Regions from separate parts of the Homo sapiens genome. Here region 1 is linked to region 2. The links come from fine-mapping of genetic effects on gene expression. A gene starts in region 2. The other region holds a variant in brackets. All regions are shown on one strand. Distances are from middle to middle.

Region 1 (10,836 bases), 64 kb after region 2:
TTAGAATCTACTATTTTAAAACTTTGGAAAACTAATTAAAAACTTGCAGCAATCAGAAGAATGCTTAATCAAGAAAAACCAGGTGAATCTCAGCAAGAACCGCGAGTTCCATGGCATTTTAACTTTCTCTGGTCCCATCCTGGCTGCCGCAGTGGCCTAGAAGACAAGAGGCTGCCACTCCGGTGCATGCACTGGTCCCAGAGGGAGCAGAATGGGCCTCATCGGCAAAGAACTGCAGTTGTTTGTTTCGACCTGTCTACTGAGTCCCTGGAAGACTGGCTCAAAGGGCTTGACTTTACCTCCCAGTGCTGAGGCATCTACTAGGGAAAGATGGGAAAAGGTTATTGGAAACATTTACAGACAAACATATTTGCTGCTGCCTGAAGCACTGAATAACAGTTGAGGCAAACAATAGATTTAACCAAAAGCTTGGGAAGAAAAGCTGAGGAGTAAGATGTTTTGGAAAATAAAGGTTTGAAAAGCTCTGACACATTCTTGGAAATCCAGAAGGCTCCACAAATGCCCAGGGCTGTGTACATGTTCAGGAAAGACCTGAAAAGGCCCTAGGCTTTCACCTCTGGCTGACCTTCAGGATCTGTGCAAGCAGGCAGCGAATGCTCAGGGATCACCGTCAAATGCCTGGCTGAGTGTTGAAGGTGTGCTCCAACATACACACAGACCTCATCTCAAAAGACTGGGAGACATTTTTTGTTCTAGGCGCTTAAATCTCTGTCTAATCACAAGCTGACCACTATATTAATGGAACAGAGAACTCAGAGGCCACACATGATAAAGAATATATACTATATAAAATTAGCTCAGAAAAGTAACTATACAAACAATGACTGTAACAAGCAGTCAATAAACCCTGGGGGAGAAGGAAGAATCTCATTTCCAGAGTTGCCACGGTAAAAATTCAAAAGTTCCAGTTTTCAACAAAATATCACAAGGCATGCAAAGAAACAAGAAAGTATGGTTCACATGCAGAAAAAAGGCAACTAACAGAAATTGTTTAAGAGGAAGCCCAGGCATTAGACGTATGGATGAAGACTTTAAATATGCTATTTTAAATATGTTCAAAGAACTAAAGAAAACCATGTTCAAAAATCTACAAGATCCATCAGAACAATGTCTCACTGAATAGAAAATATTGATAAAGAAAAAAATAGTTTAAAAAAAGAACCAAACAAAAATTCTGGAGTTGAAAAGCACAAAAACTGAAATGAAAAATTCACTGCAGGGGCTCAACAGCAGAAATAAACAGCAGTAAGAATCAGAGAACTTAAAGATAGGATAATTGAGATTATAAAGTGTAAGGAACAGAAGAAAAAATAATGAAGAAAATAAACAGCCTCAGAGACTTGTGGGACACCATCAATTGTACCAACATACATATTATAGGGTCTTAGAAAGACAGAGAGAAAAAAAGACAAAAAAAAGTTTGAAGAAATAATGGTAGAAAAGTCCTGTATTTAATGAGAAACATTAATCTGCATAACCAGGAAGCTCGACAAACTCCAAGTAGGATAAATTCAAAGAGCCACACCCAGACACACTGTAGCCAAACTGTAGAAAGCAGCAAGAGAGAAGTGACTCTTCAAGTACAAGGATTTCTCAGTAAGATTAACAACTGATTTCTCATCTAAAGCCATGGAGGCCGAAAGGTGACAAATTAAAGGGCTGAAAGAAAAAAATCTGTCAACCAATAATTTTTTTTTTTTTTTTTTTTGGAGAAGGGATCTTACTCTGTCACCCAGGCTGGAGTGCAGTGTGGTGCAATCATAGCTCACGGCAGTCTCCAACTCCTGGGATCAAGCAATCCTCCTGCCTCAGTCTCTCTGGGAGCTGGGACTACAGGCCAGTGCCATCATGTCTGGCTATTTTTCAACCAAGAATTCTATATCCAGTAAAACTATCTTTCAAAAATGAATGAGATCCCCAAAAAATATATTAGAAAGCTCTTAGAAGAAAACACAGGAGGTAAATCTTTAATGACCCTGAATTTGGCAATGGATTCTTAGATACAACAACAAAAGTATAAGCAACAAAATAAAAAACTAGATAAACTGAACTTCATTCATCAAAATGAAAAACTTTTGAGCACCAAATGAGATTATCAATAAAGTGAAAAGACAATTAACAGAATGGGAGGAAATACTTGCAAATCACATATCTAATAAGGGTTTAGCATCCAGGATATATATAAAGCACTCTTATAACTCAACCACAAAAAGACAACCCAATTTTAAAATGAGCAAAGGATCTGTATAAACGTTTCTCCAAGGAAGATACTGAAATATTCAACAAGCGCATAAAAAGATGTCCAATATCAATATCATTAAGAAAATACAAATCGGCTGCTCTGCCTATTGAGTAGCCACTTTTTTATTTACTTCTATAATAAACTTGCTTTCACTTTATAGACTCACCCTGAATTCTTTCTTGCATGAGATTCAATAACCCTCTCTTGGGGTCTGGATTGGGACCCCTTTCCGGTAACATCTTCCTGGCAAGCCCCAAAGGGATGATACTGAGGAGACTCCCAACCCAAAGGAAATAGACTGCAGCACTGATTGGCCGACCTTGGGTAAGTGGGATGCAGTTACCTGGGTAAAGGATGGGATTGGGTTAGAGGCCCAACTTAGGAGAGTTAGAGTCTCTCCTAAGAGAGGGATAAAGGTGCCTGTTAATAAAAGGCAAGCACGCTTGACTGAACTTGGGTTTGATGCCCAACTTAGGAAGGTTAGAGTCCTTCCTAAAATTTAGGGGGTTGGAGGCCCCTCTCAGTAGAGTCCCTCTCGACTAAGAACCAGTTTGGCACTATGGGATGTTAACTGCTATTCTCTTTGGATTAATCTGCCTTGCACTCTTTGCTGATGGCTGTGGGTGACAGAACTAGACATGTCCAAGATTATGGGACATGGGGAGCTTTTTCCTCCCCAAAAGGGGAAACTAGAGCTGATGGGAATGCTGGGAAAGATCCCTACGCTCCCAAAAAGCAGCCACCTGAACTTCTGATTCAGTGTCAGCTGCAATGGGCGGGTCTTTCTCTGGCCTCCCTGAGCTTCTTGCATTCCCCAGCCTGCTGCAGGCAATGCTTTTCTCCCTTTCTTTCCTTTCCCTTTCCTATCTTTTCTGTTATTCAGGGCCACCATCTTGCCCAAAGACCACATGTTGAGAAATGTCCCTGAGAGCTTGACCTTGTAATCATATGGCAGTACTTTCTCTTTGTCTCTGCCTTCCAGGCAACAGGGATTTTGGGGTAGTAGTTAGCTCTACAAATTATCTTGAGCAGTTAAAAGCCTTTGCAAGCTCAAAATTTACTGCTCTGGGCTCCTTCTGGGAAAAGCAGTGGAAACTGCCCAATGCTGTAGCTTAGCAGTTAAGGCTTTGTCTTTTCACAATGGTGGCCTGAGTTCAGGTTCAATTTTTAGCCTAGAAAATGAGCACTTTCTGGTTGGCATTTGGGTGACCTGTGCCATTTGTTGATTCTCCTCCCTTTCATAAACTGTCTTAAATTTTCCTTTCTCTCAGCACCTGGGAGGTTACATTTGGAAAAGTTAAAAAGCCAGGAATATTGGCAGTTTGGCGTGGCTAAAGTTGGGTAATAAGATATTTAAAACGACTTTTTAAAGAGTGCTATGGTTAAAAGTCAGCTTAATTAAAAGTCGATATTCAAGCTCTAACAGCCTGGGACTTCTTAGGAAAAACAGAGGAGGCACCACATACCCTGTTTTGGGAAAAACCTCTATTTTCCTCATGGAACCCCGAGAATTATTAAAAGTGGATAGATCCCTCTCAAAATCTATGGCTCTGTTCTGTTTTGCACTGCATTATCTGTTTTTTACTTTGGGGGTATCAGAAATTACTTCACATTATGAGAGAACTTTGGTGTGTAATATAACTAGGTAGGAAATACATTTAATACTTTTGGGGATGGCTAAATGGCACTGTGGGGGATACTTGGATCTTTGTGTGTCTGGATTAAGAGCATGCTCTTGGCCACCTGGAAGGTATGGAGATGTCCTCACCCTTCCCCACTGAGAGATAAGACTCCCATGGGGGATGGGCTGATCTCAGAAAGGGCTGATTGGCTCTGGGTTGCCTGGCAATGAAATATGTGGTAAAATCATTGCACTGTTGTGTTCTGTAGCGTTTCTCTTTGGGGGATCCAGGATCAATATAAAAATGGGACCCTCAAGTTTTGGGGCTCTGTCTTGCCTTCCAATTGTGCCTGCTTATTAGGCCATAGAAACTGCATGCTTTCCTTGCCCTGTTCCTCCAGGGCTCCACCATAAAGCCACTAATCCAATTAAGAAACTGGCAAAGGAAAAACCTTACAACTACTACATTTTCTTCTGTCTGTGTATTTATATGTGTTGTGTGTGTGATATAAAAGGCTTTGATTAATTGGCTTAAAAATAAGTGTTTAAATCAAATATTTTGTCAGAAAAATAAAAAGCGTAATGCCTTTTAATTCGTGTGACTTAAGCTGTGGGAAGTAAAGAAAATTTTAAAGATTATTGGTAAAATAAAGACATTCGGTCTAAATCAGGCAGGTCAAATTTTAGGTTTGCTAAACGCTTTAACTTTATAAACTGCCTCTTTGACTTTTGAAAATTGTTAAACTTACCTACAGCCATTAGATTCTAGGTAAGGCCTAGGGACATGTGGAGTTAGCCATGCCTCCTAGCTATGCTAGTAAGTGTC[A/C]GACCTTATCTGCACTTCTGCCTGGTGTCCTAGGCTCCATACCTAGTACATAATTAAAATTGCTTACCAAGTTTTTCACTAAAAATAAACACTGCTAAGAGTTAACAGTGTAACATCTACTTGAGACTACTGGAAAAACAGTTTTACATGCAAGGTGTGTAGGGAAAGTGAAATGTGTTTTTGGTAAAAGAGAAGGAGACATGTGAATGTGGATTTTTTTTTTTTTTGGCCTAAATTAAAGGGTTAAGGGATTGTTTTAAGTTAGGATAAAGCTGAAGGTTTGCAAAAGTTGTGGAAATTTTGTGAAAAATTAATCTTTTAAAAGAAATTCTGTGTGTGAACATACTGGCTGAAGTTAAAGGGGTATGATACAGTTCCGTAAATTGAACACTGGAATAAAAGCGTAACAAGGTTTTCTTAGAGCACTGATCTGCTCTTTAACAAAAATTTGTAAAGGGTTATAAAAGGTTTATAAGAATCTTACCTTCTGGTCTGACATTAAAATTGGGTAGATTTGTCTATAATGTTTTATTAAGAATTGGGTTTAACATTAATAGTACACTAATGCAATGGTGAAATTTGGCTTATTTGGTATAAAAATCATACAGGAAGCACTGTCAAATATGAAATGGTGTTTGGCTTTCTTTGACCTGTATTTATATAAATATGTTATTGGTATGTGTTCCAAAGTAATGGGAAACTCCTAGAATTGTGATATGACTTAGCATATGTTACTAATAATTACAATTATTATGTAAAATCGTATGCCACAAAAGTAATCAAAATTCCTAGTCAATTGTGCCTTTAATAGTGGCTGCCTTAAGACTTTCTGTCAACCACAGACAACTGCTGTGTTGATCCTCTTCAAAAGGTGGTTTATAGTCAGCTATTATAGGACTTCAACAGGTGCTCTTGGATGCAGGTTTCTAATAACTTTGGAGATTGTGACATTAGAATAGAGGTTCTTAGGCCGGGTGCAGTGGCTAACGCCTGTAATCCCAGCACTTTGGGAGGCCGAGGTGGGTGGATCACCTGAGGTTGGGAGTTCGAGACCAGCATGACCAATGTGGTGAAACCCCGTCTCTACTAAGAAATACAAAAATTAGCTGGGCGTGGTGGTGCGTACCTGTAAGCCCAGCTACTCAGGAGGCTGAGGCAGGAGAATCGCTTAAACCTAGGAGGCAGAGGTTGCAGTGAGCCAAGATCACGCCATTGCATGCCAGCCTGGGCGACAGAGTGAGACTGTCTCAAGAAAAAAAAAAAAAAGAAGAACAGAGGTTCTTTCAGGACTCTCATGGAGAGCTGAAATGATTATGAATATCAAGTAGAACAGGAGTTAACTGCATGGACTGAACAAAAGACTCAAGTAATCTTTTCTGACTTTTTGCTTAAAACGTTGCTGATCATTTTTGTTTTTCAGAGCCAAGAAAACTTTTGAGCTACTTACAGCTTTTGACAATTGAGTAAAGTATACTCCTGTGAACAAAATTTGGAGCATATTTGTTTTTCTCTACCTGCTTTCTCTGGAATTTGGAAACTATTTGTGAGTATTAACTTATGGCAATATAGTTATTTGCACAAGTGCAATAAGAATCTGTTTTCTTTTGCAACAGGACACAATTAGAGAAACTAGTTGTTTTACCAGGACTTTGATGGGAATGGTGTGCTTTCCTTTAAGGACTCAAACTTGACTTATGGAGCCAATAAAAGTTCCTTGGGAAAACTGGCCTCATACCTTGTCTACACAGTTCCTGTGCAGGGTTCCTGACCTGTGGTTAGTAAAGAATGTCACTTTCCGACAGGCCCAGGAACCCCACGCCATCTTGGGACCTCAAGAGGAGAGGAATTTCCCAACTCACAGGTTATTTGAGGGTACAAACCCATGGCTGGGCTTGGCTTTAACAAAAAGTCTTATCTAAGCTTCCTTTTATGGAATGAAGTTTCATCAAAGCCAATTTTAAAAACCTATGTGAAAAATAACTGTTCTTGCTGCACTTTATACAAATAATCAGGCCAAGTATAATAAAGCAAATCAGTTGTACCATGATTTGTCTTCAGTAAAAATGGGAGACCGGAGAGAGAAAATAAATTATGTTTCAGGAACTTGGTACACCTGTTACTAGATTCTAGTCTCATCAGTTGTTTTTAAGTTTTTTTTCTGCAACTTAGGCTAACCCTGCTTACTCCTGTGAACCAATCAGTGATCTCTGGCTGCTGCTCACAAGAAACAAGAGAGATGGGTAATGTAAAAATCTGGATCAATATTCTAATTCTGGGCACATACTGGAGTCGGCTAGCAACCCGATGTATCAGTTTGGTTTCAACAACTGCCCAGTTCATGGAAAGCCTTCTTGTTTAGTTTACTCAGGATAATTTTAGTTATTCTACTTTACTGTTGTGGAATATATTGCTGTTGTACTCTTTGTGTAGGAATGCAGGATAAGTTTACTGAATGTTTTCTTAAACTGAACACTTATTAATCTTCCAGATACCACCTTTTGTTGGAACTCAGAGCTATGAATGGCCCTCACCATATTGATGCTTTCTGACTGAGCTCTTCTCTACCCTGAATACAAGAGACCCTCATAGTTAGGCAGGAATATCATCGCCCCATTCAGCCTGAAGAAGTTACAGAAGATGGATCTTTGTCCCTCTACGACTGTTAGGATTAAGGGTTCTGCTGTAAAAGGGAGGGGGGAAACATGTCAGGGGTGTCTGAACCAGAGAAACTCCATCTTGAATAGGGGGTGAGTAAAATAAGGCTGAGACCCACTGGGCTACATTCCCAGGAGGTTAGGCATTCTAAGTCACAGGATGAGACAGGAGGTCGGCACAAGATACAGGTAATAAAGACCTTAATGATGAAACAGGCTGCAGTAAAGAAGCTGACCAAAACCAAGATGGCGATGAAAGTGACCTCTGGTTGTCCTTACTATTCATTATACTCTAATTATAATGCATCAGCATGCTAAAAGACACTTCCACCAGCACCATGACAGTTTCCAGATACCATGGCAACGTCAGGAAGTTGCCCTGTATGGTCTACAAAGGGGAGAAACCCTCAGTTCCAGATACTGCCCACCCCTTTCCCATAAAACTCATGAATAATCCACCCCTTGTTTAGCATACAATCAAGAAGTAACAATAAGTATAAGCAGCTGAGTGGCAATGGGCTCTGCCTATGGAATAGCCATTCTTTATTCCTTTGCTTTCTTAATAAACTTGCTTTCACTTAAAAAAGAAAATACAAATCAAAACCACAGTGAGTTCCCACTTCACACCCACTGGGATGGCTGTAATTTTTTTTTTTTTTTTTTTTTTTTGTGAGACAGGGTTTTACTCTGTTGCCCAGGCTGGATGGAGTGCAGTGGTGTGAACGTGACTTGCTGCAGCCTTGAACTCCTGGGCTCAGGCAATCCTCCCAACTCAGCCTCCCGAATACCTGGGAATACAGGCATACACAACCATGCCCAGCTAGTTATTTTATTGTCTGTAGAGACGGGGTGTCATTATATTGCCCAGGTTGTTCTCAAACTCCTGGGCTCAAGTGATCCTCCCACCCTGGCCTCCCAAAATGTTGGAATTACAGGCATGAGCCAACGTACCTGGCCTTTTTTTTTTTTTTTAGATAAAGTCTCATTCTGTAGCCCAAGCTGGAGTGCGGTGGCATGATCTTGGCTCACTGCAACCTCCATCCCTCAGGCTCAAGTGATTCTCGTGCCTCAGGCTCCCTAGTAGCTGGGACTACAGGCTGGTGCCACCACGCCTGGCTAATTTTTTGTATTTTAGTAGAGATGGGGTTTCACCATGTTGCCCAGGGTGGTCTCAAACTCCTGAGCTCAGGTGATCTGCCTGCCTCGGCCTCCCAAAGTGCTGGGATTACAGGTGTGAGCCACTGCGCCTGGCCTATAATTTTTTTAAAAAAGGAAAATAACAAGTGTTAGGATGTGGAAAAACTGAAACCCTCATATACTGCTGTGGAAACGCAAAATGGTTCAGCCACTAAGGAAAAGAGGCTGGCAGTTCCTCAAAAAGTTAAAACATTTTACCATATGACCCAGCAATTCCACTCTTAGGTACATGCTCAAAATAACTGAAAAAAGGTACTCAAAGAAACACATGTATACACATGTTCACAGCAGTACTCTTCACAACAACCAAAAAGGTAGAAACCACCAAAATGTCCATCAATACATGAATAAACAAAATGTAATCTATCCAGACAGTGAATACCATTCAGCCTTAAAAAGGAATCAAGTTCTGATTCATGCTACAACATGGATGAACCCTGAAAACATGCTAAGTGAGTAAGTCAGAAGCAAAGGGCACACACTACGATTTCATCTACATGAAACATACAGAATAGGGAAATCCACAAGACAGAAAGCAGACTGGTAGTTACCAGTGGTTGAAAGGAGGCATAATGGGGACTCACTGCTTATGGGTATGGGGTTTCCTTTTGGGAACGAAAAAAATGTGTTGGAACCAGATAGAGATCATGGTGCAGAACACTGTGAATGTACAAAATGCCACTGAATCATTCACTTTTAAATGGCTAATGTTATGTGTATCTCACCACAATTTATTTTAAAACATTGTTAAAAAAAAAAAAAAAAAAACAGCCAGGTGCGGCAGCTGACACCTATAATCCCAGCACTTTGAAAGGCTGAGGTGGGCAGATCACTTGAAGCCAGTAGTTCAAGACATGCCTGGGCAACACAGTAAAAAACCCCATCTCTACAAAAAAATACAAAAAATAGCTGGGTGTGGTGGTGCACACCTGTAGTCCCAGCTATCTGGGGGGCTGAGGTGGGAATCACTTGAGCCCAGGAGGTGAGGCTGCAGTGAGCCATGTTTGCACTACTGCACTGCAGCCTGGGCAACACAAAAGTAAGACTCTGTCTCAAAACCAAAACCAAAACCTACTATAACCACTTAGTCACTTGGATGGCTAAAATTTTAAAAACAGAAAATCACAAGTGTTAGCAAGGATATGGAGAAATGGGAATCTTCACATATTGTTGACAGGAATGTAAAATGGTGCAGCCCTTGTGGAAACAATCTGGCAGTTCCTCCAAAAGTTAAACACAGAATTACCGTATGACCCAACAATTCCATCTCTATGTATATACCAAGAGAACCAGTCTGTTCACGCAAAAACTTGTTCACAAACGTTCACAGCAGCACTATTCACAATAGCGAAAAAAAAAGTAGAAACAGCTCAAATGGTCAACTGGTAAATGGATAAACAAAATGTGGTCTATTCATACAATGAACTCTTACTTAGGCATAAAAAAAAATGAGGTACTATATATGCTACAACATGGATGGACCCTGAAAACATTATGTAAGTTATAGAAGTCAGAAACAAAAGGCCACATATTGTATGATTCCTATTACATGAAATGTCCAGAATAGGCAAATTCATAGATACAGAAAGTAGATTAGTGGTTGCCAGAGGCTGGGGCAAGCGAAGAATGGAGAGTGCCTGCTTAGTGGTATGGGGTTTCTTTTTGGGGTGATGAAATATTCTGAAATTAGATAGTAGTGATGGTTGCATAACATTCTTTTTTTTTTTTTTTTAGACGGAGTCTTGCCTCTGTCGCCCAGGCTAGAGTACAGTGCCGCAATCTCGGCTCACTGCAACCTCCGCCTCCCGGGCCCAAGCAATTCTGCTGCCTCAGCCTCCCAATTGCCTGAGGTTACAGGAGTGTGCCACCATGCCCAGCTAATTTTTTTGTATTTTTAGTAGAGATGGGGGTTTCACCATGTTGGCGAGGCTGGTCTCGAACTCTTGACCTCAGGTGATCTGCCCGCCTCGGCCTCCTAAAGTGCTGGGATTACAGGCATGAGCCACCACGCCCGGCCGTAACATTCTGAATATACACAAAGCCACTGAGTTGTACACTTTAAGTGGTTTAAGTGGTGAATTTTGTTTTGTAAATTTTATCTCAATTAGAAAGTGTTTACAATTTTTTTCGTGGGGTAAAAAACGGTGGTGGGGGGAACATCCAGATTCCTGAATCCCGCACAGCCTGGTAGCCACTCCTTACCACCACCACGAACATAAAAAAATGGCTAGCAGGCAGGACGTGGTAGCTCACACCTGTAATCCCAGCACTTTGG
Region 2 (10,648 bases):
ACACTTCAGTTCCGTGCACACCTGAGGGTGTGGCACTGCCAGCAGGGCAAGTCCCCCCACAGGTGCAGAGGTGGAGCCGTGGGGACGGAATGTGTCATAGCTCAAAGCGCCTCAGGAACAGGGAGGGGTTCCCAGGAGGAAGCATACCAAGAACACCGTTTTTTAAAGAACGAAGGGGAAAAATAGAAACGTAACATAATAGTTGAACAGACGAGCACAGTAGGTAAGGCCAGGAGTTTGAGATCAGCCTGGTGAGAAACATAGTGAGACTCCATCTCTACAAAAAATTTAAAAATAAAAAGAGGATATAATTTTTAAATATAGGGCAACATTTATAATAGAAACCAAACTTAAGGCCAGGAGCGGTGGCTCATGCCTGTAATCCCAACACTTTGGAAGGCCGAAGCGGGCATATCACTCGAGCCCAGGAGTTCAAGACCAGCCTGGCCAACATAGTGAGACCCCCATCTCTACAAAAACTACAAAAATTAGCCGGGCGTGGTGGCACAAGCCTGTAGTCCCAGCTACTCGGGAGGCTGAGGTGGGAGGATTGTTTGCGCCCAGGGAGGTCAAGGCTGCAGTGAGCCGTGATCACGCCATTGCACTCCAGCCTGGGCAACAGAGTGAGACCCTGTCTCAAAAAAACAAACTTAACAAAGTATTGATGAATTAACCAATACAATATAAGACCTCTACAGGGAAAACTTTAAGATGCTAAAGAGGCCATGGATGACCTGAAATATTTAGAGAGAGTCCGTCCATGCTCTTGAATGGATGGCTTGACAGCATAAGGCTGTTATTTATCCCAATCAAAATTCCTGTAGTCTCAGCTACTTGGGAGGCTCAGGCAGGAGAATCGCTTGAGCCCGGGAGGCAGAGGTTGCACTGAGCCGAGATCACACCACTGCACTCCAGCCTGGGTGGCAGAGCAAGACTCCATCTCAAAAAAAAAAAAAAAAAAAATCCAGGGTTTTTTTGGTGGTGGTGGTGGTAGTTGTTACCTGGCAAACCTATTCTACAATTTATCTGCAACAATGAGATCCACAAAGAACCTTGGAGCAGGAGTGAAGGGGATGGATATTAAGCCATCCTGCAGAGCCACTGTGTGGATAGTGTAGGGTCGGCAAAGCGGCCTGTGGACTTGAAGACAAGGCTCAGAGAGACCCACAACACCCAGGCACACGACGGATTCCAGCAGTGCTAGAACAAAAGGGCAAGGCGGAGGATGCTGGAAGCTGGGTTCACTCTAAGGAGAGAAACACAGCAGGAGCCCTCGCTGGTGCACGTGCCCCATAGGTACACAGTCCATTACCATTGTGACTGAGGAGCAGACGCGATTCTCAAACGAAACAGAAAAAACACAGTTCTAAGGTAAGGCGTTTTGCATTAGGTCGATTAAAATGAAGGTTTCTGTTCAGCACAGGACACTGCAGGCAAGTCCACAGTGAGCAGACTTGCAAAGCCTCCAGCCAAGGCAGGGGGATGGGTGAAAGACAGGAGACTCCCCCAACAAGAAAGCAGGCAAAAGGTAGAAATGGGAGGAAGGGCAAGGAAAAGGAAAATCGCAGGGAGGGACGCTCCCAACCACAGAATTACAAAGTAAGGCACTGATGTGCACGGCCTGTTACTCGGGCCTCATCTAGGCAGATGGATGAAGCTGGGAGCCAGGGGTGTGGAGGGCAACATAGCCGACGCGGGCAGGGGATGGGGGTGCTTGGGCGGCTCTGGGTGAATTCGGCCTCTGCAGGCTGGGACCCTGGGGCCACTGTCCCCTGCCCCTGCGCTGTTCCCACCGGCCAATGGATGATCAATGAATGAATTATTGAATAGATGAATGAATGGAGTATTGCCTCCTTTCAGAGCCCAAGTGCTTCCAAAGGAGATCATGAAAGTAAGGAGGCCGGCAGGGGAGGGGAGTAGGGGGAAATCCATGCCCTGGAACCCCCAGCCCAGCCTGACTCCTCTGCCCACAGGTCCCCCATCAGCTCCCAGTGCCCCCCTCACTCGGGCTGCCTGGTTGCCAAGGTTATGCGTGGGTTCTGGGGGCCGGGCCACAAGGGGCAACCGCCTCCCTCTCCCTGCCCTCCTCCTGTTTCCCGGGTGGGAGCGTCGCCATCTTGCTGTGGGTGCCCTCCCCAGTGTGTGGCAGCTTTTGGGTTAAGGCAGCTTTGGAAAACCTGAAGGAAGGAACCAAGCGGCCCTGGGGTGGAAATGAGGCCCAGGGTCCCTGACCCCGCATGGGGCAGGAATGGGCCAGGCCAAGCCCATTGAGCCATCCTCCCCACCCGCACACGCGGGGGCCCCAGGCCTGGACCCCACATCTGGAGCCGACACCCCGACCCAGCTCACCAGTGACCCTCACTCAGGAGTGACTGAGCTGGCAGGTGTGCAGGTGACAGGATGAGGACGCAGCCCAGGAGTGGCTGTGAAGGGGCTGGAAGGAAGCTTTTGCCCAGAGGCTTGGCCTGCAGGCCCCACAGTCACCCTGGAAGCTGGTGGGCTGCCGATGCAATGGGACAGTGGCCACCGAGGATACTCAACCAAGCGGGCAGGCTGTGTGCCAGTGAAGCTGTATTTACTGTCGCTGAGGTGTGAATGTCATATATTTTTCAAGTGCCACAAAAGATTGTTCTTTTTTTCCCCAACGATTACAAAGTGTAAAAACCGTTCCTTGCTCCACCCGTAGGGGCTGCATTTGGCCTGTAGCTTGCGGAACTCCACCTTAAACAAGGAAATTAGCTTCTTTCTCTGGGGCCTTATCAGAGCCTTTAATACGTGATGAAGCTCCAGGAAAGTGCAGGCTGCAGCATTTCCCAAACTTACCTACTCATGGAACCCGCTTTCCTCCCAGTTCCCATCATGTTCTTGGAGTGTTGTGTGAAGCAGTTTGAGAAAAAGGTCCCCTAGGGCAGCAGTCCCCAACCTTTTTGGCACCAGGGACCAGTTTTGTGGAAGACAGTTCTTCCATGGACTGATGGGAGTGGGGAAGGTTTCAGGATTAAGCTGTCCCATCTCAGATGTCAGCCACTTAAGGAGTGCACACCCACCCAGGCCCCTCGCTGGCGCAGTGACAATAGGGGTCCCTAGGAGAATCTGATCTGATCTGAAGGGAGGCAGAGCCAGGCAGGAGTGGGCTCGCCTCTTCCTGGGCGGCCACTTCCTAACAGGCCAGGGACCCGGATGGTGGGTAGAGGGGGGGGTGTTGGGGACACTTTCCCTAGTGTTCTAAAGATGGAGCTTTAGGCACCAGGACAAGGCAAGGCTTTGGGGGAAGGGCATGGAGCAGGCGCTTCCTGGGAAGACCACCCACTGCTGGGCATCACAAGGGCTGTGGGGACAGGGGTGCCTCCCATCCCTCCCAGGACACAGCCTGGCTGGGACCATGGGACCAAGCTCCCCTAGGTTCCCCCCCACTCCCTGCCTCCTAGAATATTCTCCAGAGGCCAAAGTCCCAGTCCTGCAGTGCCTCCATGCCGGTGGGGTCCGCCCTCAAGGCACAGCAGTCCCTGAAGGCGCTTCAGAGACTCTGTGAACCCCCAGCCCAGTGGCAGTAGCAGCCCGGCCTTACCATGTCTGAGACGGCGTGACCTTCTTGCACCAGGACTGACACCATCTGCAGGAAGAAGCTGCCTCAGCCGAGCCGGGAGCAACCCCCACCGGGGCCACACGGTCTCAGGGGTCCAGGCCCATCACCGACCCCGCCGGCGCTCCCAGGCACCTTGTCCGCCGGGAACTCAACGGCGCCGCCGGCGCACGGGGTCCGGTTCTGGCTCCAGTTGGCTGCGACGTCGAAGTCCGTGTTGGGGACCCAGAGTTTGGAGACCGCCTGGGTCAGTGCTGGGGAGGAGGCGACTGAGTGCCCGGGATGCTCTCCGGGATGCTCCCTTCTCAGGGAAGGCCACCCACCCAGAGAAGTGCGGAAGGTCCGCGCGGATCACCCGGGACGCATAGGAACCCCATCCCCGGGGGCCCGGACCCAGACCCTGGTCCCTCCCGGCCAGACTGTGGGCGCCCTGCCCGGGCGCTCTCCAACGGACTTCTACTGATACCTGCAGAGCCCGCTCAAACGCGCCCTGCAGGACGCCTGCCTAGATAGCCTCCCGGCACTGCCCCCAGTTTGCCTGGCGCTGGAGCAGAGGACAGCGTTGTTAAGGACAGTGACAACTGGGGCATGGAGGAGGATGGGGCAGCACAGACCTCTTCTCGGCCTTGGAATCAGGAAGGCTTCCCGGAGGAGTCCTACCTGGGCCGGGAAGAGCTGCGACAGAGCGCAACCCGGTATGAGAAGTAAGAAGGGGCTGGGGGCGGCAGGACCAGGTCAGGCCGGCCCTGAATGTGGTGGGTGGGGTTGTCCTGAGGGAGCCGCGAGGGGTTTAGGGAAGGGGGCGCCAGGGACACGCGCCGGCCTGGTGTGAAGGCGGAGGAGGGCTCAGTGCTCCCTTGGGGACCGGGAAGCTGAGGCGGTCTGCCGAGCCCCGCAGGCGCACACTCGCTGCTCTCGGCAGGTTCTGGGGACCGCGCCCATTTCGCAGACGGAAAAACCGCGAGGGCAGGAGCCGCCGGAGGCCGGGGCTGGCCGAGGTTCCCGGAGCCCCTCCTCTCCTCTCCCGCACCGCCCGATGCACTGGCCGCGCACTTCCGGGCTGCGCACTCGCCAGACGAGGGAGGCAGGGCCGAGTTTCACGCCCCCAACCCTCCAAAGCCCTCCCTGCCCACTCCTCGGAAGATCTTCACCCTCCAGGCCTAGAGCGACCTCGGCCCTGGGTCCTGACAGACCGCTACCGTCCGGGCCCGCACCGGTGTGGTCCCGGCTCACCGCAGAGCTGCAGCCACAGCAGGACCCGGCCCAGGACGCCCATCTCGCCTCGGCTCCTTGCACCCCACCAGGAGACTTTGCCCCACTGGACCCACGTGACCAGGCAGGTCGGGTGGGGGCACCAGGGTCGGTTACACATTTACCTCCAGACCCGCCCAGGGCCGACTCTTCAGGCCCCTGGGAGGCACCTTCTCAGCCTCCCCTTACCCGCCCCTGCAGGGCCTGAACACCTTAGGTTCTCAGGAAGAAGGGCAAAGAAGAAGGGCTTGGCGAGACTGACCTACCCTGTAAAATGGGTGTCTTGCCGGGAGGGGGAATAAACGACCTTTGAATTCACCCCTTTCTCTGTCCTGTGTGCTGCTAGGGCTGAGCTAGTCTGCTCACCATTGGAACTGGGTGTCCACTTCTCCACGCAGTGCCCCTGTCCCATGGGCTGTGGGTGGTGGTTGGATGATAGAAGGAAGATCCTGGATGGAACATGGTATGTGGATGGTATAGGAGGGTGGATTGTGGATGATGGTGGAGAGTAGTGGATGGTGAGTAGGGGACAGCTGATGGACAGCAACATTGATGGTGCATGGTGTACGGCATATGGACGCATGGCAGATGAATGGTAAATGGTTGACGGGGTGGATGGTGAGTGATAGAGGGTGGATGGGTGATGAATGGATGGATGAGGATGGTGAGTGAAAAATGAATGAATGGCCGGGCGTGGTGGCTCATGCCTGTAATCCCAGCACTTTGGGAGGGTGAGGCAGGCGGATCGCGAGGTCAGGAGATCAAGACCATCCTGGCTAACGCGGTGAAACCCCGTCTATACTAAAAATATACAAAAAAATTAACCGGGCATGGTAGAAGGCGCCTGTAGTCCCAGCTACTTGGGGGGCTGAGGCAGAACGGCGTGAACCCAGGAGGTGGAGCTTGCAGTGAGCCACGATCGTGCGCTGCACTCCAGCCTGAGCGACAGAGCGAGACTCCGTCTCAAAAAAAAAAAAAAAAAAAGGAAAAGGAATGGATGGTAATCAGGGAGTGGTGGATGGATAATGGCATAAATGGATACATGGCCGACAGGTAGATCATAAAGAGTGGGTGTTGGCGGGGCACGGTGGCTCACGCCTGTAACCGCAGCACTTTGGGAGGCCAAGGCGGGCAGATCACCTGAGGTCGGGAGTTCGAGACCAGCCTGACCAACATGGAGAAACCCCATCTCTACTAAAAATACAAAATTAGATAGGCATGGTGGCACATGCCTGTAATCCCAGCTACTTGGGAGGCTAAGGCAGGAGAATCGTTTGAACCTGGAAGGCGGAGGTTGTGGTGATCGGAGATCACGCCACTGTGCTCCAGCCTGGGCAACAAGAGTGAAACCCCATCTCAAAAAAAAAAAAGTGGGTGTTAAATGGTGGATGTTTGGTGAGTGATGAATGCTGAATGGATGGATGGTGGATGGTGAATAGATAGATGGTAAATGGATAGATGGTGGATGATGGTTGCATAAATGGTGAATTGTGGATGGAGATGGACGGTGGATAGTGAATAGATGGTGGATAGTGAATAGACAGTGGATAGTGGATAATGGGTGGATAGTAGATGGTGGATAGGATGATAAATGGATGGGTAATGGATGGTAGATAAGTAGATAATGGATAAATGGTGGATGATGGATGGTAGGTGGATGATGGTTGGTGGGTGGTGGATAATGGACAAGTGAATGGTGATGAGTAGATGGTGAATATTAAGTGGATGGATGGGCGGCAGATGGTAGATAGTGGATGATAGATGGTGGATGGTGGATGGTAAGATGAATAGTGGTTGGTGGATGGTGGGTGGTGGATGGTGGGTGGATGGAAGGATGGGTGGTGAATGAGTGAATGGTGGATGGTGAATAGGTGGATGGTGGATGGTGGATGGTGAATGGCCGATGGTGGATGTGAATGGTGATGGGTGGTGGATGAATGGATGGATGAATGGCGAATGGTGGATGGCAGATTGTGGATAAGTGGATGGTGGATGGATGGATGGTGGATGGGTGAATGGGTGGATGGATGAATGGTGGATGGTAGACAGTGGATGAGGGATGATAGATGAATGGTGGGTGGTGGATGAGTGGATGGCGAATGGGTGAATGGACATATAGATGGGTGGATGGATGGATGGTGGATGGTGGGTGAGTGAATGATGGGTGGATGGTGGATGAAGGGATGGTGGATGGTAGATGGGTGGATGTGTGAATGGGTGGATGGATGAATGGACGCTGGATGAGTGAATTGTGGATGATGGATGAGTGGATGGTGGATATGTGAATGGGTAGAGGGATGGATGGGTAGATGGATGGTGGAGAATGGATGGTGGATGAGTGAATGGTGGATGAATGGATGGTAGGTTGTGGATGGGTGGATGGTGAATGTGTGGATGGATAGATGGTGGATGGATGGATAGTGGGAGTGGATGGTGGATGGATGAATGGTGGATAGATGGATGGTGGATGTATGCATGAATGGACGGTGGATAAATGAATGGTGAATGAATGAGTGGTAGATGGATGGAAGGTGATGGTGGATGGTGAATTGGGATAGATGGGTGGTGCGTTATGAATGGTGGATGATGGATGGTGGATGGATGGAAGGTGATGGTGGATGGTGAATGGGGATAGATGGATGTTGGATGATGGATGGTGGATGGATGGAAGGTGATGGTGGATGGTGAATGGGGATGGATGGTGGATGATGGATGGTAGATGGATGGAAGGTGATGGTGGATGGTGAATGGGGATAGATGGATGGTGGATGATGGATGGGAGATGGATGGAAGGTGATGGTGGATGGTGAATGGGGATAGATGGATGTTGGATGATGGATGGTGGATGGATGGAAGGTGATGGTGGATGGTGAATGGGGATAGATGGATGTTGGATGATGGATGGTGGATGGATGGAAGGTGATGGTGGATGGTGAATGGGGATAGATGGATGGTGGATGATGGATGGTGGATGGATGGAAGGTGATGGTGGATGGTGAATGGGGATAGATGGGTGGTGGATGATGGATGGTAGATGGATGGAAGGTGATGGTGGATGGTGAATGGGGATGATGGGTGGTGTGTTATGAATGGTGGATGGTGGATGGTAGGTAGATGGAAGGTGATGGTGGATGGTGAATGGGGATAGATGGGTGGTGCGTTATGAATGGTGGATGATGGGTGGTGGGTTGATATAGTATTTTGTAGAAGGACAGTTGATCAACAGACAGATGACGGATGGTAGATGAAAGCAGATAGTTGGCTGGGCGCGGTGGCTCACGCCTGTAACCCCAGCATTTTGGGAGGCTGAGGATGGAGTATCACTTGAGGTCAGGAGTTCAAGACCAGCATGGACAACATGGTGAAACCTTGTCTCTACTAAAAATACAAAAATGAGCCAAATGTGATGGTGCACATTTGTAATCCCAACTACTTGGGAGGCTGGGGCCGAATTGCTTCAACCTGGGAGGCAGAGGTTGCAGTGAGCCGAGATTGTGCCACTCCACTCCAGCCTGGGCGACAGAGTGAGACTCTATTAAAAAAAAAAAAAAAAAAAAAAAAAAAAAGAGTAGATAGTTGATTGTGGATGGTGAATGGGTAAGTGTATGGATGGCAGCTCACAGATGGTGAATGTTATTGGTGGATGGATGGATAGAAGAGTGATTATGGAAGGATGGTTGATGGATGGTAGATGGTAGTTGAATAAAGGAGAACGAGGGAAAGGGCGGACGGTGGCAAAATGAATCATGGTTGCATAGTGGATGGTTGATGGGTGAAAGAGAAATCGTAGCTGTTGAACAGATGTGTATGTATGGATAGTTGTTGCAATGCACGGTGGGTGAGAAAAAGTTGTGGATTTTGGATGTAGATGGATGGTGGACAAGACCAAATGGTGGAGGGATGGATTGATGGTGGATGAATAATGGTGAATGAATTTTAGATGATGTGTGAATGGATAGTAGTAAGTAGAGAGACAGTAGGTAGATGGATAAGAGTACAGGAGTTACTGGATATAAATCAATGGGTGGGTGGACAGAGCATGGTGGATAAATTGTGAATGAATGTGCGCTAGGTGATGGATGGATGATTGATGGGGGTTGGGGGAATGGGTCTGCAGTGCATGCTTGGATCTGCATCATGCACGTTGGAATGGCTGGGTGGTGAGTGAATGGAGGATGGATTTGTGGGTGTTGGGAAGCAGAGAGGTAGAAAGATGAACAGCAAATGGATTGTGCATGATGTTTGGATGATTTGATGATGGGGAGATGAGTTTCTGGGAGGGTGGTGAATTGGTCATTAGGGGATTACTGGTGGAGAGATGGATGGTGTGCCTTGTGGATTGGGGAGACACTGGTTGTAGCTGATGGAAGGGGGAGAATGGTGGATGGTTACACTGGGTTCCAATGGCAGGATGGTGGATGAGTGACTAGGGAAGGGTGCAGGAAGGATGGTGGAGGTGGGTATGTAGGCAGAGGACTGAAGGTGAAAGGGAAACTACTCAGTCTTGGAGACTTCCAGGGCCTTCCACCCTCCAGGCCATCCTGCTGTTTCCTGCACCCCCACCCCTCATCTGCAGACTCTGCCATGAGCACCCCTTTGCTTGGCCTGGTATTTGCTTCTTTCATGAGTGATATGCTGCATCCGGGGAGGAAGGAGCCGCCACTGGGGGGAGCTCTGCCTCTTTTTGTGTCCCGGGTGGGCGCCTTGCCTCGACATCTCTGATGCCACCAGCATTGCCCCTTACCTTGGAGGGATCGCCTTGAGCAGAGGTCCCTGCGCTCAGTGGCTCTGTGGTGCTGGCCCAGCCTAGGACGGGGAGGGTGGGTCCTCACGGTCCTGGAGTTTGGCTGCCCCTTGCTGGACTCACATGTCCTCAACCAGGAACAAACAGGATACTTGGGGGTCACAACTGTTTTGCCCCTTGTCTTGCTTCTCAGTGGGAAGGAGGCAGTTTGACTGACAGGGCTGCGTTGGGCTTCACCCCTGAGTGTCTGGCTCTGCCCCCCATCCCCACCGCCACCATAAATGCAGAGGGCCAGGTGAGGCTCAGCAAACTTCACCCCTGGTGCTCAGGGCCACAGCCAGGACTGAAAGGGCCCAGAGGCTGGGGCTCCCTCTCCTGATGGTGGGGCCTCAGGGGAGTCCAGAGTGCTGGACGGCCAGGACTTGGGGCAGCAATGGAGCCTCTTTGACTACTGCTGCTCCACCTGGGCAGGCCATTCCTAGATTGTGCTGTGTGGAGAGGGTAGTGAGGCCACTTGGCTTCCTGGTCAGGGGAGGCTTCCTGAAAAAGGTGGCATTAAAATGAGACAGGAAGGATGAGATCACAGCTGCAGCCACAGTGAGGAGGTTGAATTGAAGGTGGCAGACCATAGGGGGCTGGGGCTGGCTGGGTGGGGTATTGGGATCCATCTCTCTTGCCCTGAGTGGCCTCTGGAGGTGGGTCCAGCAGTCAGAGGGTGGCCCAGCGAGCTCACATGAGGCAGCAGATAGGCACCAGGGCGCTGGGCAGACAAGCGGTACCAGAACCACTCACATGCAAAGATGTGAGCTGAGGAATGGCTGCGACCGCACTGCAGGTGCCATGTGTGCACAGAAAGCCCTTGAGCATATGCACAGGTGCCCCCGGCCCTCAGGCACACATGAGGGCACAAACTTGCAAATGGCTCAGAACCTCAGCAGGGACGTGGAGAAATGCAAAGCCCCGGAGTTTCCTCCAGTAAGAAGAACCTCTCACGGCCCAACTGCTTCAGCGCAGGCTTCAGCATCTAGAGGCTGTCTCAGTCTCTTGGTCCCTGTGTCTGTCTCCGCTAT

The links. PIP is the estimated chance that this variant, and not a neighbour inherited with it, causes the effect. A credible set is the group of variants that fine-mapping cannot tell apart.
Region 1: its variant is the best candidate, but not a certain one, in a credible set for the expression of AMN in whole blood (TOPMed, PIP 0.58).

What each region holds. Positions count from the first base shown.
Region 1 is chr14:102,853,295-102,864,130 of GRCh38, reverse strand. All of the region lies in intron 2 of TRAF3 (TNF receptor associated factor 3), which reads right to left. Among named protein-coding and RNA genes, the nearest start is that of AMN, 64 kb to the left of the region's middle. The variant A/C (reference allele first, on the strand shown) is at 4,711.
Region 2 is chr14:102,916,900-102,927,547 of GRCh38, reverse strand. It overlaps AMN (amnion associated transmembrane protein), which reads right to left and starts at 4,885. Exons shown (of 12, transcript NM_030943.4): 1 at 4,817-4,885; 2 at 3,719-3,837; 3 at 3,569-3,613. The coding sequence starts at 4,859. RefSeq lists silencers at 3,100-3,298, 4,462-4,661.